2 separate regions of the Homo sapiens genome follow, and region 1 is linked to region 2. The links come from fine-mapping of genetic effects on gene expression. A gene starts in region 2. The other region holds a variant in brackets. All regions are shown on one strand. Distances are between the middles of the regions.

The links. PIP is the estimated chance that this variant, and not a neighbour inherited with it, causes the effect.
Region 1: its variant is fine-mapped to the expression of CD4 in whole blood (TOPMed, PIP above 0.99).

The regions. Positions count from the first base shown.
Region 1 is chr12:6,815,661-6,823,983 of GRCh38, reverse strand. CD4 (CD4 molecule) reads right to left here. Exons shown (of 10, transcript NM_000616.5): 6 at 7,581-7,928; 7 at 6,654-6,854; 8 at 5,442-5,563; 9 at 5,070-5,137; 10 at 3,185-4,685. The coding sequence ends at 4,655. GPR162 (G protein-coupled receptor 162) reads right to left here and starts at 2,163. Exons shown (of 5, transcript NM_019858.2): 1 at 2,084-2,163; 2 at 1-516. The coding sequence starts at 85. RefSeq lists enhancers at 2,180-3,152, 4,123-4,623, 4,624-5,124. The variant A/T (reference allele first, on the strand shown) is at 4,581.
Region 2 is chr12:6,784,760-6,793,082 of GRCh38, reverse strand. CD4 (CD4 molecule) reads right to left here and starts at 3,555. Exons shown (of 10, transcript NM_000616.5): 1 at 3,421-3,555. RefSeq lists enhancers at 484-533, 3,649-3,698, 3,514-4,071 and a silencer at 6,006-6,300.

The DNA.
Region 1 (8,323 bases), 31 kb before region 2:
GCAGCGCCAGGAGCCCACAGGCCAGCCAGGACAATGCGTTGGAGCGCAGGGAGGCCTCCTCTGCCCCCGCCCCGCCCCGAGCCATCCTATCCTCAGCCCCCCACCCCCTTGAGCTCTGTGGGGGTGGGGGCTAGGTCTCACCCAGGAGCCCCACTCACAAACACTCCCATGATCCCCACAATCCTCGCCCTGTCAGCAGGCAGGCTGCCCCCAGGCTCACCCCAGTGCTCAGCATTGCATGATGGACCCAGCTGAGGGCAGATGTAGAGGGCAGGGGAGGAGACTGAGGGTCAGCAGAGGCAATCCTCAGCTTTCATACTGGGCGGGGCCTTCCTTAAGCATCCCTGCAATTGATGGGGCAGGCAAGCTGGCTACTTTCCCAACTATGAGGCTGGCTGGGGGGTTCTGGTCCCCATGCTGGGACTTCCAGGTCTCTTTTGCCTCTGGTTCTTGACCAGTCAGGAATCTTCTGGATGCCCCAGGGATTTGGGGGTGGGGCTCAGCCCCCTGGACAGGCTGCAAGGGAAAGATGAGATGTGGGAGGGAGAGGGCAAAGGTAGGGCCTGGGCTGGTCTCCAATCAGCCTCCTGTGCCCCCTTTCTTGAAACTATAGGCATGACTGATTACTAAGGCCCTGAGGGTCATTCAGAACATTCCTTTGCCTTAACTCTGACAGCTAAACACCCCACACAGATGAGAGCCGCACTCTTCCAGACCTCTAGGGAAGAAGGTATTCCCACCTCCCTGTCTCCTTTAGCCCTTCCTCCTCCCGCTGGAACTCCCAGGTTCCTTCTTAGAACATCCCCTGCTCAGCACTACTCCACCCCTATCTTCAAGTCCCTAAATGTCTCTTCAGAACTACTGATGGGAGACACAAGACTGGTTTCCTCTTGAGGGTTCACAGTGAACTGGGATATGGCATCACAGCCTTCCTCCCCTACCTGCCGGTCTCCTGGATGCAGGGGTCTTGGTGCTTAGCCCCTACTTCCCCAAACCTGGGTGATCACCCTCCAGCTACCCATATCTGGGAAAATGGGAGAAAGGAGTCTGGGACCGAAGGGGGTGCTAGGGAACCTGAAGGCGGGGAAACCGCTGACATCAGAAGCATCCAGAAATGGAAAGAGGGGGAACTAGGGAGAAGGAGGAGAGTTTGAGCAGAAGAGAAAGAGGGGGCAAAGTGGTAGTATCTGAAAATAGCAGGAAAAGCTCAAACCCCCTGGAGAGGAGGCTTTGGAGGGAGGAGGGACTGGAGGAGGGAGGGAGGGAGGGAGCAGGGAATAGGAGGCTGAGAAGAAAAGCCAAATGTTCAATAAGGTGCTGACTCCCCGTGGGGAGACCTTGACTCTTCCTCCCTGGCCCAGAGCCTCAGTTTCCCTCTCATGGGAGGAAGGATGGTCCCAGTTTTAGTGCGTGATGCTGAGCTTCAGTGAGCCCTGGGAAGGGGGGTAAGGGAATCGGGTGAAACCCTGAACAGAGTGGGGCTGTAAGGAAGCACATAATGGCTTTAGGGTAAGTGGGGTAAAAATGGGGCACAGCAGTGAAAGGGTCTGTTTCCCATGGAAGCAGCTCAGACCCTTGCTTTCCCCAAGAGGTCCTGGTCCACCCCCACCCTTGGCTTCCCTCCGGAGCCCAGTACACCCTAGTTGCCATGGCAATGGCCAGCCAGAGGGAGGTGGAGGGACTTGGCCAAGAGCAGCCCCCAGTGTCCTCTCCTACAGCCCTGGACCCCTTCCCACCCACCTCCACCCAGGCCCAGCTGGTGGGCTCAGGATGAAAGAGATAGGGAGTCAGAGAGGGAAGGAGGCAGGAAAGATGTGAAGGACAGAGAGAGGGAGGTGAAGGACAGGGAGAGATCAGAGGAAGGTGGGAAGGGGGATCTGGGAGGTTCCCTGGCCGACGGGGTCCCTCGCCCTTTGGGGTGAAGGGGTAAGGTCAGGCGGCTCCTCCCTCCTGTCCCCCTCCAGGTTCTCCAGGGCAGAAACAGCAGGTGGCTGGGGAGGAGGGGCCGGCCTAGGGGAGAGGAGGCAGCTTGAGGGGGAAAGGGAGGCAACACAGGGGACGGGGCAGGCAGGGGTCGTCTTACCTCTCTCCGGCTGCGCCCAGCACTGCCATGGAGACCGCACTCCCGACGCGGCTCTCTCGGGCTCCCGCTGCCTGCCGGCTCCAGCTCGCCCGCCCTCCTCCCTCCTTCCCTCTCTCCCTCCCTCCCTTCCCCCGGGCCTCCCTCCTCCCCCTCAGTCCCGGCCTCCCAGGCTCAGCCCACGGCTCACTCGGTCTCTGCCCCTCTCACTCTCCAGGACCCTCTCTCCCGGGGTCGTCCTGCCAGTGAGCCCAGGCCAGAGGGAAGGCAGGACAGCTTTGTGGGGGGCGGGGGGGGGCGGGAAACGAGTGCAGGGTGGGGAACTGGACGGTGGTGACTCGGGGAGGAGGGGCAAGGAAGGCGCTGAGAGGGAGGGCGGTGAGGAGGATGGCTGGGAACCGGCTTCATTGGTGAAATGGTTCATGTCCTGCCCCCACCCCTTCCCGTTTTCAACACGAACACAAGCTCCAAGAGGCAGCTGGTGTTGTTGGGGACTGAGGAGCTAGCTGTTCGGGGAGGAGGAAGCGTGTGTCACTGTGTGTATCTGTGTGAGGGCTGGGCCTTGGGTTTGGGAGTGAGGGGGCTTGTGGTGCACACTGGGGCTGCTTGTGGAGTTGGGGGTGGTTGTGCACAAGCTAAAAGGATGTGGGCGCATGCATGCACACAGACACACACACTCTGCCTCCTCCTCCTGGAACACAAACACATATGTTGGGGATACAATTTGCACACACATGTTACAGTTTCTCATAGTCCTTTTTCTCTGCCACACACATACACCAGGAGAGCTCACACAACCCTGAGTCTCTCCCCCACGGTATATCACACACATGTAATTACAGAGTCTCAGCCTCACACACACACAGGCCCACACAGAGCCCTGTGGGTTGTGGAGGTGGGTAGCCAGCCTCCACAGAATTTTTCCCTCTCCAGGGAAACTTCATCTCCTTCCTGGGGCACGCCCAGCAACCTCTCCTCTGGGTCCGACCCCAAAGACCAGAAGATTCCTGGTCCCCAGAGAAGGGGTCTCTCTCTCTCTCTCTCTCTCACACACACACACACACACACACACACACACACACACACACGAAGAGCATCTTTATAGTAAGTTTATTGTATTTTTATTTCAGCTCAGGGGAGCAGGGGTGGAGAGTGGGCACAAATGCAAAGTAAGCAAATGGGGAGCCCCAGCAGCAATAGGGGGGTCTTCCTGGAAGAGGCAGGCTTTAAAGACAGGAGGAGAAGGAAATAGGGAAAAGGAGTTGGGACTGAGGGAAGTGGTGAGGAAGGGTAGGAAGAGAGGGGATCCTGAGAGAAGTGGATCAAGAAGATTTGTAACCCTGATTTCCCTGTGTCCTGAATGGTCTGGAGGAGGGTAAGGGAGGGTGTGGGGCAGGCGCAGAGCCTGGCACAATCACCTTTGAGGTCCCTTAGAGGGTTCCCTCTCAGGCTAGCTACCCCCTCTCCCAGCAAAGCTCGCTTCCAGGAGGTTCTGCACAGGGTCAGTGACTGGTCACTGGGCATTCTCTCCTGCAGTGCCTGTGCTCCCAGCTTGCGCTCTGATTAGAAGAGCCAAAGGCTTTGTCCTCTGGTAACAGATTCTGCCACCAGCGGGGGATGAAGGAGGGATTTTAGACAGGGAGGCCTTCATCCCTGCTCGTAAATTCTCTGAGATGGACCCTTCCCATGGGTGCTGTGCTTCTGTGAACCCAAAAGTACACATTGAGTACCCACCACTAGCCACTGGTGAGAGCCGTGTGGCATTTGTCCCTGCATTCAAGAGGCAGCAGTGGAACTTGGGACAAGGGACCTGGGTTAGTCCCGACTCCAGCACTTGCTAGTCCGGCACTTGGTAATCAATCATCTAGCCTCTCTGAGCTCTGGTTCTGGTCTATAAACTGGAGATGATCATCTTAGTTCTGTCACTGCCAGCCTTGTAGGATTTTTCTAAGTCTCAAATAGACAGAGGATGTGAGACATCCCTTGAGGCCGTGTACATGGGGCTGTGTCCAGAGGGGCTGTTTGTGCAAGGTCAGGATGTGAGTCTGTGGTCCCACCCACATAGGGTGAGAAGCGGGCAGCATGGGGCAGGAGGTACTGGCTGCCAGAAACCTCTGGATCTGCATCCATCCTTGACTGGCTTGGCTGTGTGATTTTGTGCAAGTTCCTGCCCTCTGTGGTCCCAGGGTCCTGTCTTGTAAAAGAACAGTCCCATGCTCCATGCTTCCAGACACCCAGCCTCACCCTCCATGCCAGCCAGGGCTGGCCCTGAACACTCCCCTGGGATCCAAATGAGCAGTGGGGAGAGGGTCAGAGAGAAATAATGAGAGAAGGGCTAGGCTTGAAGGAAAAGGAAATGGCGTGGAGGACGGTGTGATTAAGCCTCTGGAAACTAGAGAGCAACACTCAACCAGTGAAGCCGGGGCCTAACCCAGGAGAAACAATGGCAAATTGTAGAGGAGGCGAACAGGAGGCCAGAGGCTGGGGATCTGCTACATTC[A/T]TCTGGTCCGCAGGCAGGAAACGCGGGGCAGACACCTGGGGAGGCTGCAAGTGGGATCTGCCTGGCCTCGTGCCTCAAATGGGGCTACATGTCTTCTGAAACCGGCTGCAGGAACAAAGAAGAAGGGGAGCAGGTCTGTCCCCACTGCAACCCCTTTGCGTTCTAGCACCTCCAATGGCCTTTCCAGCGCAGCACAGCTCCAGTGGCTTTCCAGCAGGGCCTTTCCTGGCCTGCTGCTCCTTCAGCTCCATCCTCCCACTTCTGCCTCCTTCTAGCTCCTGGCCATCTTTTCCCACCCCTCTATCCTCTCCACCACACCCCTTTAGCCCCCATCTCCTCACCTCCACCCCTCCCAGCTCTTCCTCCTCAACTCCTTCCTCCTCTCCATCCTCCCTTCCTGCCCCCCTTTGCTCCCCTTCCTCCCCCTCCTCTCTAACTCCCTCCCCCTCCCCCTTTCCCCTCTCTCAACCCCTCCTCCCAGATCCTTACTGAGGACACTGGCAGGTCTTCTTCTCACTGAGGAGTCTCTTGATCTGAGACATCCGCTCTGCTTGGCGCTGTCCAGGGACAAGAAAGGGAGTCACGAGGGTCCCAGGCCTCCAGAAGGGAGGTGCCCCTTGGTGGGGGGAGTGGGGGAAGCTGCGACAGGAGAAGCAGTTACATGGCCCAGGCCATCTATCCTGGAATTAACTCTCTGCTCCTTCCTGTCTCTCCCTTGAGTGGGATCTGGGACAGGGCAGCAAGGGAACTTACGAGTGGGCAGAGGGAGCTGGGCCAAAATCAGTTCCCATATACAGGATCTCCTGGTAGAGGACTCAGGGGTTTGAGGGCCTTGTGGGGACCAGGTGTGGGGTTACTCACCCTTCGGTGCCGGCACCTGACACAGAAGAAGATGCCTAGCCCAATGAAAAGCAGGAGGCCGGCGACGCCCCCCAGCACAATCAGGGCCATTGGCTGCACCGGGGTGGACCATGTGGGCAGAACTGCAAGGGAGAGAAATGTGCTCAATGCACCGCCCTCCTCCACGGGCCAGGGGACTGAGGACTGCCCTGCAATCCCTCCTGGCCAGTCTCTGGTTTGACCCTGGGGTTGGGGGAGAGGGGAGGGGTGCCTGGGGGCTCTCAAAGGCCGCCAGTGCTGGGGAATCGGTTTTATGTTTGGGCATATCCATATCCAGGGCACTCTGGAGAGAGAGAAGCTGTGGTCTGGCTCCTGGGCTGTGTGTGTGAGTGCATGTGTGTGTGCATGTGTGAGTGTGTGCATGTGTGTGCGTGTGTGAATGGTGTGAATGTGTGTGTGTGCGCGCGTGTGCGCGTGTGAGTCCATGTGTGAATGTGTGTGCGTGTGTGCATGTGTGTGAATGTGTGCCTGTGTGCGTGTATGAATGTGTGTGCGTGACTGCATGCATGTGCGCGCGCGTGTGTGCACATGTGTGAATAATGCGTGTGCGGATGTGAGTGTATAAGTGTGTGAGTGTACGTGTACGACAGTGTGTGGGTGAGAGTATGTGCGTGAATGTGTAAGTGTGTGTGTGCATGCATGTGTGAGTACATGTGTGTGTATGAGTGTGTGACAGTGTGTGAGTGCATGGGTGTGAGTACATGGGGTGAGAGTGTGGGTGTGAGTGTGGATGTGTGTGTAGTGTGTGTATGAGTGTGTGCGAGTGTGTGAGTGATGTGTGTGCGTGTGTGAGAGTGTATGGGAGTGTGTGCATGTGTGTGAGAGTGTATGTGTGTGAGTGTGTGTGTAAGTGCGTCTGGATTTGGAGAAAAGCCAGGAGCCAGGGAGGGGGGCTCTCGGTCAGGTGGACCCCATCCCTAGGCTGTAGACCTGAGGGAGTGGGAACTTGTAGAATTACAACTGGCAGCCTAGAGCCCAGGACCACAACCCACCTCACTTCATCACTTCTATGCCTCCTTTTGGGGCCTCCAAAGCACCCTGGGACCACAGAGGACACCATACCCATAACCCCCCAACTCAGGCATTGGGAGGCCGGGACTCTGGGTGGTCTCTGCCAACCACAGGAAGGTCCCGCAGCCCAGGAGGCAGAGGCCTTGGAACCTGGGTCCTTACCCTTGATGTTGGATTCCAGCAGGACCTGTCCCGAGTCACTCAGCAGACACTGCCACATCCCCGCCTCAGGGTTCAGCACCCACACCGCCTTCTCCCGCTTCGAGACCTTTGCCTCCTTGTTCTCCAGTTTCAAACTCAGCATCAGCTTAGGGGAGGTGGGTCCCCACACCTCACAGGTCAAATTTTTCTGGAGCTGAGTGGCTGCAGAGGAACGAGAGGCTGAGATCAAAGGCCTGAGATTCAGTAGAACAATTAAAATGATACTCTATATGGGTGACCTTCTTTTAGCCTTTTAGAGCAGGTTTTCATGCAGTCCTACGAGGAAAAACAGCGTTTGGGGTCCAGTGGTATTGGATTTGAATCCCAGCTCCACTGCTTAGCAGCTGTGTGTCTCTGGGCAAGTGACTTAACAACCTGCACCCAGATAGTACTAAAGGCAGGCATACATGTAAAGTGTTTGGATGGGGCCCGACACGTGCTGAGCATCAAGTGTTAGCCATTACTATTTGCAGAGTCGTTATGATGATAAGGAGATAAGGAAGCCAGAAACTCAATTTGGAGCTTGACATTATCATCATTACTATCACACAGAGAGCAGATTTCATTATCCTTATTAGACAGGTCAGGAAGCAGGCCTGCAGTGGGAGGGGGCTTAGCCAGGGTCACAGAGGGTTGGTTATAGGAAGAACTGGAACCCTGGTTCTTAGCCCAAGTGCTTTGGGGATCTTCAGTGAAGCCAGCCCCAGGCTGGCTCATGGATGTCTCAGTTCAAAACCAGCCCCAAACCCAGAGGGCCCTCCCTCACTTCATCCAGGTGACCAGGGCCTAGGCATCCCCTCTTGGGGCCTGGCTTGCCTCAGAGGGAGCCCTGGGCCAGGCCCCTCCAACTCCTTCCCCTGCCCACCCCTCCCTGGCCTGGCCCCTCACCTCTCATCACCACCAGGTTCACTTCCTGATGCAACTTTCCTGTTTTCGCTTCAAGGGCCAGGGTGAGGTTTCCAGAGCCAGCATACTGAGGCAAGGCCTGGGGCAGGGTGAGGTGGAGCGGGAGCTTCTTGCCCATCTGGAGCTTAGGGTCCTGGGTAACCCGTTTTACAGACACTTCCTTGTTCTTCAGGTCAAAGGTGATCCAAGACTTGGAGGAGGAAGCCCTCTCCGCCTGCCACCACAGCTCGCCACTGCCCGTCAGCTTTTCAACTGTAAAGGCGAGTGGGAAGGAGAACTCCACCTGTTCCCCCTCTTTCTTATAGACTATGCTGGAGGCCTTCTGGAAAGCTGGAGGTGGGAAGGGAGAGACCCTGGGTGAGGAGATAGGAAGATGAGGGTGCACGAGTGGGGTTGGCATGTGGAGGCAGCAGGGAGATGGAAGGGGACCCGACGAGTCCAGACACCCACCTTGTCACTTCAGATACTTCAGTTCCTTCCTACCTCTCCAGCCTTCTCTCCCTTCTTCCACCCAGCATTTTCCTACAGCAGGCCACCTCCCTCCTCCCGGAAGCCATCACAGAGCAGCCCAGCCACAGGGGATCCTTGCTGTCCTTAGGATTCCTGGACCACAGAAGCCATTTGGCCTCCACTCCTTAGAGGCGTATTCATCACCCTTCACAAAATAACAGCGAACACTTAACTAGGGCTTACTCTGTGCCAGGCACCATTTTCAGTGCCTTACG
Region 2 (8,323 bases):
CAGAGGTGTCTTACCCTAGTACGGTAGCATCCTGTATACCAGCACTCCGAGAGAGGCTGGGAGGGCTCTCTGGTCCCTCAAGCCCTGGCACGTCTCTCTCTCTCTTTCTGTCTCTCTCTCTCCCTCCTTGCTTCTCAGCTCACATCTGTGCATTTCTGTATCTATGCTTCCCAGCCCCCAGCTTATGCCCCCAGCCTGCAGCTCCCTGTGTCTGTGTCTGTCTTCCTCTTTGCCTCATATACCAGGCGGCCGTGCTGGCTCTCCCGGGCTCCCCTGGAATGCCCCTTGCCTCTTCTCCTTTTTCAGCTTCCCCTCTCAGGCTGCCACTAAGCTCTAGCTCCTTCCGGTCTGTACACAGTCCTCCTGGCCTTTGGCAGCAATGCAGACCCTGGACAAGCTTTGATCTGTGGGGAGCCTGCCGAGCACGCCTGCAGCCCAGGGTGGATGTGAGGGAGCCGGCTGCAGGGTGGGAGGGACACATGGACAAAGGGAAATGGACAGAGTTCCCCAGAATGCACAGAGCCTCAAGGGAGGAGGGGAGGGAAAGATGTGGGAGAGAGAGACCTGGAGCAGCTTGTTAAAGCAACAGCTATGCACACACAATCCACAATCACACACAAAGCGCAGGGTAGTACAAAAAAAGAGGAAAAGAAGAAATTCTGAGAAGCAAGACAGATGCACAGAGCATAGATCCAAAGTGAGGCAAAGAGAGACTGAGAAAGAGAAGAGACCAAAATGGCAACACACACCACGCACTTTCTCAGAGCCTTGAGGTTCCTGCCGCCCTCACCCCTGGCCCCCAGGGATGGGATGAGGGGCGAGGCTTGGGAGGGTAAGAGGGCCCAGCTCCACCACAGCGAGAGTCTGTGGTCCCACAGGCACTTTTATCTTCTCCCCATAACCCCCAAGCAGCCCACTCAAGCCCAGCCGCGGGATGTGCCCCACCGCGTTCACCCTCTCTACTGCTGACTAGCTTCCTATAAACTTCCTAGAGACTGTGACCCCTCTAAGGAACTCTTGTGGTTGGTGGCTGCAACCTCCGCCATCCTCTTCTTCGCCTCAGACACCCACATCGGGGGAACCGTGCCCACCCTCCTTCCCTCATCCCCTCAAAGGTACAGAACAGAGCTCAAACTCAGAGCCTTGCAAACCCAGACCCCTGCCCACCTACTTCTGATTCCCCACCTTCATCAAAGTTATTTTGAGACAGGGCCTCACTCTCGCCCAGGCTGGAGTGCAGTGGCACAGTCAGGCCTCACTGCAGCCTCCGTCTCCCAGGCTCAAGCAATCCTCCCACCTCAGCTTCCCAAGTAGCTGGAACCACAGGCACACACTACCATGCCCAGCTAACTTTTGTGGGGTTTGTAGAGATGGGGGTTTCACCATGTTGCCCAGGCTGGTCTCAAACTCCCAGGTTCAAGCCATCCTCCTGCCTCGGCCTCTCAAAGGGCTGGGATTACTGGTGTGGGCCACCACGCCCGGCCCATCACAGGTATTTCATTCAACAAACATTTATTGAGTGTCTAAAATGTGCAAGACTGGCCCAGTATGGTGGCTCACGTCTGTAATGCCAGCACTTTGGGAGGCCAAGGCGGGCGGATCATTTGAGGCCAGGAGTTTGAGGCCAGCCTGTCCAACATAGTGAAACCTGGTCTCTACTAAAAATACAAAAAGTAGCCGGGCGTGGTGTTGGGCTCCTGTAATCCCAGCTACTCAAGAGGCTGAGGCAGGAGAATCGCTTGAACCCAGGAGGTGGAGGCTGCAGTGAGTGGAGATCACGTCATTGCACTCCAGCCTGGGCAAGAGAGCGAGACTCCGTCTCAAAAATAATAATAAAAAATAAAACGTGCAAGACAATTGGTCTAGCCAATTGCCCTCAGCACCACCCCGCCATTACGGCCAGGGTCAGAGCCTAGGGCTGCCCCCAAGCTCTGTCTAGCACCAGTGGTGGGAGGAGTTTTTATCTAGATATAGACCTCTCCTATGTAAGTGCTCCCACATTGAAAGAGGGAAATCATCTCCCGAGTGTCTCTAACGCTGTCCTCAGGGGCTCTTTCATCTGACTTTGAGGGCGGCGGCCATTTTGTATCAGCCTACAGCATCTGATACAGCACAAGGAATTATTGGTCAAAATGTGAAGTAGCAGTGACTTCCCCCATCAGGCCCTGCTCTTAGCCTTGCCCCGATAAAAATGTCCACCACAAGAGCAGGGCATTCAGGAAGCACTATCCCACTCAGAGTGAAATCTTTGAATTATTGAGAACAGGGCCTTTCCGTTTTGAGGGATCAGAACGTACCCCAGGAAACCTCTCTCCCAGAAGAAGCCTATGAGGGGAAAGCAGAGGACACTGGGGATAGCACGGCTTCAAGGCCATGAGGTCTCAGGGGCTGGAAAGGTCTGAGGGCGGAAAGGCTGAGATGGCACAGGGCTTCCCTTCAGGAGGGACAGTGAGTCCTCACTCTCCCTCACACCCTGCCAGGCCCAGGAGGGGCTGCACATCCTTCTGTAACTCTCCCGGCCTCATGAGACCCCTACCACCAATTCTTTTCGAATCCGTTTCTTAAATGACATATTTATCTAAAGATATGTATCTGCAACTTTTAGGGCAATTCATACGCAAAAGCTCAGTTTCAACACTTTCTGAGAATTTTAGCTTTCCTATTTCATGAATCATTTTAAAGCTAACTAGAGTAGAAGTGCCTTTAGACATTGTTCAAAAATCTTAAAAGAGCAAAGAAGCAGACAAAAATTTAAAAATACACACAGAAACACAAAAGGTAGTTAAAAGAGACTATTACATAGATCATGCGACTTATGAAATGCTGCAAGTATGATATTTGGTGTCAATTTTTGGAGATTGTCCCGTTAAGGAAAATTGGTTTTGCAAGAATTTTCTCTAGACTAGATTCCACTTCTTTTGCTCTTTTTCTTGTTTTTATGTTTTTCCTCATCATTTCTTTTTTATAGGTTTCCTCCCACCTTATATTTATTTATTCTTTCTAATTTTTTCCCTCCCCTTCTTCACTCTTTTTCTCCTCTTTTCCCCTCTTCCAGTCTTCTCCCCTCAACTGCCCACGACTAGTTGCCTTCCACGCCTTTCCCAGCCTGGGATAGTCTCCAGTCTTCACTCCCTCTCTGATCTTGCTATTTAGGTCACTACTCCTCTAAGGAGCACCCATTGCTCTGGACACTGAGCTGTGCACGCTGGGGCTGCAGAGAGGAGTCTAGCACAGTCTCTGACCTCTGGAAGCTCACAGTTCCAGTGGGAAATCGCTGCTCATGACCAGTTCCAAGAGAAATGCAAGAGAAGGTGGCCAGAGCTGTGGGCAGACAACTGGGCAGAGCACATTCCTGTGCATCTGCCCCACGTTCCCCTCCCTCTCAGCTCCGGGGAAGGAAGCCGAGTCTGACCACCTTACCTCTGGGCTTGCGTCTTTCTTGCCCGCTGCTTCTCAAACAGGCGTATCTGTGTGAGGACTTGGAGCTCTGCAACCAGGAGCCCAGTGGGGAGGGTGCTTTGTTCCTTCTGCAGAGTCGTGCTTAAATGAAGAGAGACAGGAAGCCCGATGGCAAGGCTCCTCCACACCCTAGGCCTGGGCCGGCCCCAAACGTCACCAGCTGGAGCTGGGTTCCCCACCCCCCAGGCTCTCAGGGAACATGTCAAAGTGAAAATGCCAAAGTCAAGGGAAAAAGTTAAGCAGAATCAGGCTTAAATCAGGAGTCAAACTGTCACTGCCACTGTTAAGCGGCAAGAAAAAGATGGCAAGAAAGATTCCATTAGTGGTAGCGCCATGTCTGACCAGGCTGTGGGGAAAGAAGTGGGAGGCAGTTGGGGGCATATGGGAACAGCAGTGGTAAGCCCACAAACAGCTCCTTGCTCTGGGGCCCTGAGGGCATGTGTCCAGTGGGTGCCCCAGGGGTATCTGTGGAGGCTTTATAGGTGGCCCAGTGTGGAAGAGAGGGCGTGGGCTGAGCAGAGAATATCTGAGACACCAGGAGTGACTGTTAACCAGGCTCTGTTCCTCTAGGCGTCTCTGGCCAGGCCTCAGGTGCTTTCCTCTAGCCCGAATCTACCATGAACTCTCTATGTGAGTATCCGTCTGCCCATTGGACATCTCCACTGGGAAGCTCACCGGACATAGCAAACTCAACACACATCCCCAACTATGCATACCACCTGCATACTACCACCCTCCAAACCTGCTTCTCCAGGCTTCTCACTCAGTGAGGGGCTCACCATCCACCAACTTGCCCAAGCAAAATAAATTGGGTGTAATCTTTGACACCCCCTTCACCCAACTTCTCCCACGTATTTATTTACCAGTTCCTGTGGATGTTACCTTCTAAATGGCTCCAAAATCTACCCAAGTCACTCTGCACTACCACTACTGCCACCATGCCAATCCAAGATGCCAATATCATCCCTTGCTCGGACAACAGCTCCTGCCTCCTCACTGGTCGCCATTCTCCATACCACAGCCCAAGTGATCATTTAAAGATGCACATGTGAGTGTGCGTTTTCCAGTCTGAAAAAAGTGGGGCTGGGAGTGGTGGCTCATGCCTATAATCCCAGCATTTTAGGAGGCCGAGGTGGGGGGATCGCTTGAGCCCAGGAAGTTGAGGCTGCAGTGAACCGTGATTGCACCACTGCACTCTAGCCTGAGTGACAGAGTGAGAACCTGTCTTGAAAAGAAGAAAAGAAAAGAAAAGAAAAGAAAACTCTAGTTCAGCTTGCGACTCCAACAATTAACACAAGTACCCCTATTTGACAGCATTGTACTTCATCTGTAGCATATAGTACTGTGTGCTACTTCTCATTTCATGACACACCGTACTCAAGGGTTGAGATTTAATAAAATTAGTATTTACTGCTTCATTAAAGGCATTCTATATATATATATATATATATTTTTTTTTTTTTTTTTTTTTGAGAGGGAGTCTCACTCTGTTGCCCAGGCTAGAGTGCAGTGGCGTGATCTTGGCTCACTGCAACCTCTGCCTCCCGGGTTCAAGCAATTCTCCTGCCTCAGCCTCCCAAGTAGCTGGGGCTACAGGCATGCGCCACAATGCCCAGCTAATTTTTGTATCTTTAGTAGAGATGGGGTTTCACCATGTTGCCCAGGATGGTCTTGATCTCTCTTTTTTTTTTTTTTTTTTTTGAGACAGAGTCTTGCTTTGTCATCCAGGCTGAAGTGCAGCAGCATGATTTCGGCTTACTACAACCTCCGCCTCCTGGATTCAAGCCATTCTCCTGCCTCAGCCTCCCGAGTAGCTGGGATTACAGGCACCCGCCAACATGCCTGGCTAATTTTTGTATTTTTGTAGAGACAGGGTTTCACTCGTTGGCCAGGCTGGTCTTGAACTCCTGACCTCAGGTGATCCTGATCTGCCCGCTTCGGCCTCCCAAAGTGCTGGGATTACAGGCACGAGCCACTGCGCCCGGCCTCATTAAGGGCATTCTTAAGTAAAAGTGGCATTAATTTTTTTTCTTTTTTTACTGTAAGTACCTGGCAGTGAAGAATGCAATGACTATCATATGGTTTGGCACCACTGCCTTCATTTATGCTAAGGCAGCAGTTTTATCCAGATTGTTTTTGCAACATTATTGCAATGTCAACATAGTGACAAAGGAAAATAACATCCTGTATTTTTTTATGAAAATAGCTTGACCTTGAAGATCCCCTGAAAGGGTCTCAGGGACTCCCAAGGGTCTGCAGGCCACACTTCACTCTGAGAACCACTGATCTAGGTAATTTTTATTCATTCTTCAGATCTCAGCTATCGCTTTAGCTGTCCCCAAAGTCTATTTTCTCCTTCTTGGTAATAGAACCCTCAATTTTTAGCTGAGCTCTTAGCTACCCAGATTTAAAATATACTTCCCAGCCTCCCTCACAGCTGGATGTGTCCAAGTGACTCAATTTTGGTTAATAGATAGAAGTGAAAGTATTAGGTGCAACCTCAGAGTTGCTCCTCAAAGTGGGGAAAATGTATCCTCCTCAGGCCTTCTTCCTTCAGACTAGAAAGCAAACACCCTCCCTATTGTTCACAGCCAGTCTGCTTTTCTCATTTACATTACCTGGCAGGCTCTGGTAGGCATTGATGTTTTGAGCCCTGCTCCATTCATTCATGTACGTAGTTAAGCGTGTACCAGCCCAAGGCACTCTGCTAGGTAGCTGGGGATGTGATGTTGAAGAAGACAGATATGGTCACCACTCCAGCTTATGACATAGACACTAAACAACGAACAACTTCATTACAATTCGACAAGCGCTACAAAGGAAAAAGCACAAGGTGCTGGGAGATCTTATCACAAAAGAACCTTCTTTCAACTGGGAGAATTGTCTATCGGTAAGCACTGGGTTCTGCTACAAGCAAAAGAAAACCCAAAATAATAGAGGCTTCAACAAGATTGAAGTTATTTTTCACATGTAGGAAGTGTGGAGGTGGGTGGTGCAGAAGAGAGGGAGCAGCACGCCGTCCTCCAGGGCCAAGATTGGGGCTGTTTATATTTTGTTGCTCTACCATTCTCCTGCACAGGACTTCCTCCCCAGAGTCTCAGAGGATACTCAGGTTCCTCAGTTGAAATCAGTTTTCCTTGTGATAAGATCTCCCAGTCCCCTGTGCTTCTCCCTTCGTAGCAATTTTCCAGTTGCAATGAAGTTATTTGCTGCTTAGTGTCTAGCTCACAGGCCAGAGCGGTGACCGTGTCTGTCTTAGTTAGCACTATGTTCCCAGCACCCTCACAGATGCCTTGGCCCTGGAAGACCCTTAATGCTTGTTTAATATTTTCCTAATATATTAAATTTTATTGATATTAAATTTATTGCGGTAAAATACACGCAACATAAGATTTTCCATTTTAAGCTTTTTTTTTTTTTTTTTCCAAGACGGAGTCTTACTCTGTCCCCCAGGCTGGAGTGCAGTGGCACAATCTAGGTTCACTGCAACCTCCACCTCCTGGGTTCAAGCGATTCTCCAGCCTCAGCCTCCCGAGTAGCTGGGACTACAGGTGCCCGCCACCACGCCTGGCTAATTTTTGTATTTTTAGTAAAGACGGGGTTTCACCATGTTGGCCAGGCTGGTCTCGAATTCCTGACCTCAAGTGATCTGCTCACCTTGGCCTCCCAAAGTGTTGGGATTACAGGTGTGAGTCACCACACCCGGCCATTTTAGGCATTTTTTAATGTACTGCTCTGTGGGACTGAGTACACTCACATGGTTGTGTAACCATCTAGAAATTTTTCATCTTCCCCAAATGAAACTCTGTACCCATTAAATACTGACTCCTCATTCTAACTCCCTGCAACTCCTGGCTATTGAATAATATTTTTTTTTCTTTTTTCTTTTCTTTTTTTTTTGGAAACAGAGTCTTGCTCTGTCGCCGAGGCTCGAGTGCAGTGGTGTGATCTCGGCTCACTGCAACCTCCGCCTCCCAGGTTCAAGCGAATCTCCTGCCTCAGACTCCCGAGTATCTGGGATTACAGGCGTGCGCCACCAAGCCTGGCTAATTTTTGTATTTTTAGTACAGACAGGGTTTCACCATGTTGGCCAGGCTGGTCTCGAACTCCTGACCTCAAGTGATTCTCCTGCCTCTGCCTCCCAAAGTGCTGGGATTATAGGCGTGAGCCACTGCACCAGGCCAAATAATTTTTGAATGGATAAATAGAGAAGTATGGACAAGAGCAGGAGAGCAGGGCTACAAATGTAAATGCTTACAGGAGCCCCCTAGGTAGTGCAAATGAGAAAGGTACACTGGTGGTGACCAAAAGGGAAGGGTAGGGACTGGGGGAAACCAGAGAGTACTTGCCTCAGCTAGTTAAGGGCAGCCATTCCCTGCATAGCTGTCTGAGTTGACCGTAGAGGCTATACTGGCATGTGAGCCTAGAGTTGCCTGCTCTGCCAAAATTTCTAGAGAAGGTGAAAACCAGACATTTATGTAATACCTCCTGATTTTAATATTGGTAACAAATTTTTTCAACTTGTCGTGACACTGGGTAGAGCAAACAGAGCATTCCAAGGGCTGGCTCTAGCTTTGGGCCCACCGGTTTGCAGATTCCAGACCCGATGGACGGTGTGAGAACTTGCAGCTCTGTGAGTCTGTGGCCTGGAAGTCAACGGTCCTGAGAACCTGGCTCTCTCTCTGGGGTTTCCAAACAGGAAAAGAAAAAAGGAAGAGAGAGGGTGAGTTTATAGTAAACATTTGGCATTGTTGTGTGCTTTATGTGGTTGTATCTTTTATTTAATCCTCATGAGAGTGATAAGACATAGGTATTATTGTCCAGGCCATACAGATGAGGAAACTGAGGCTTGAAGAGTTTTTTG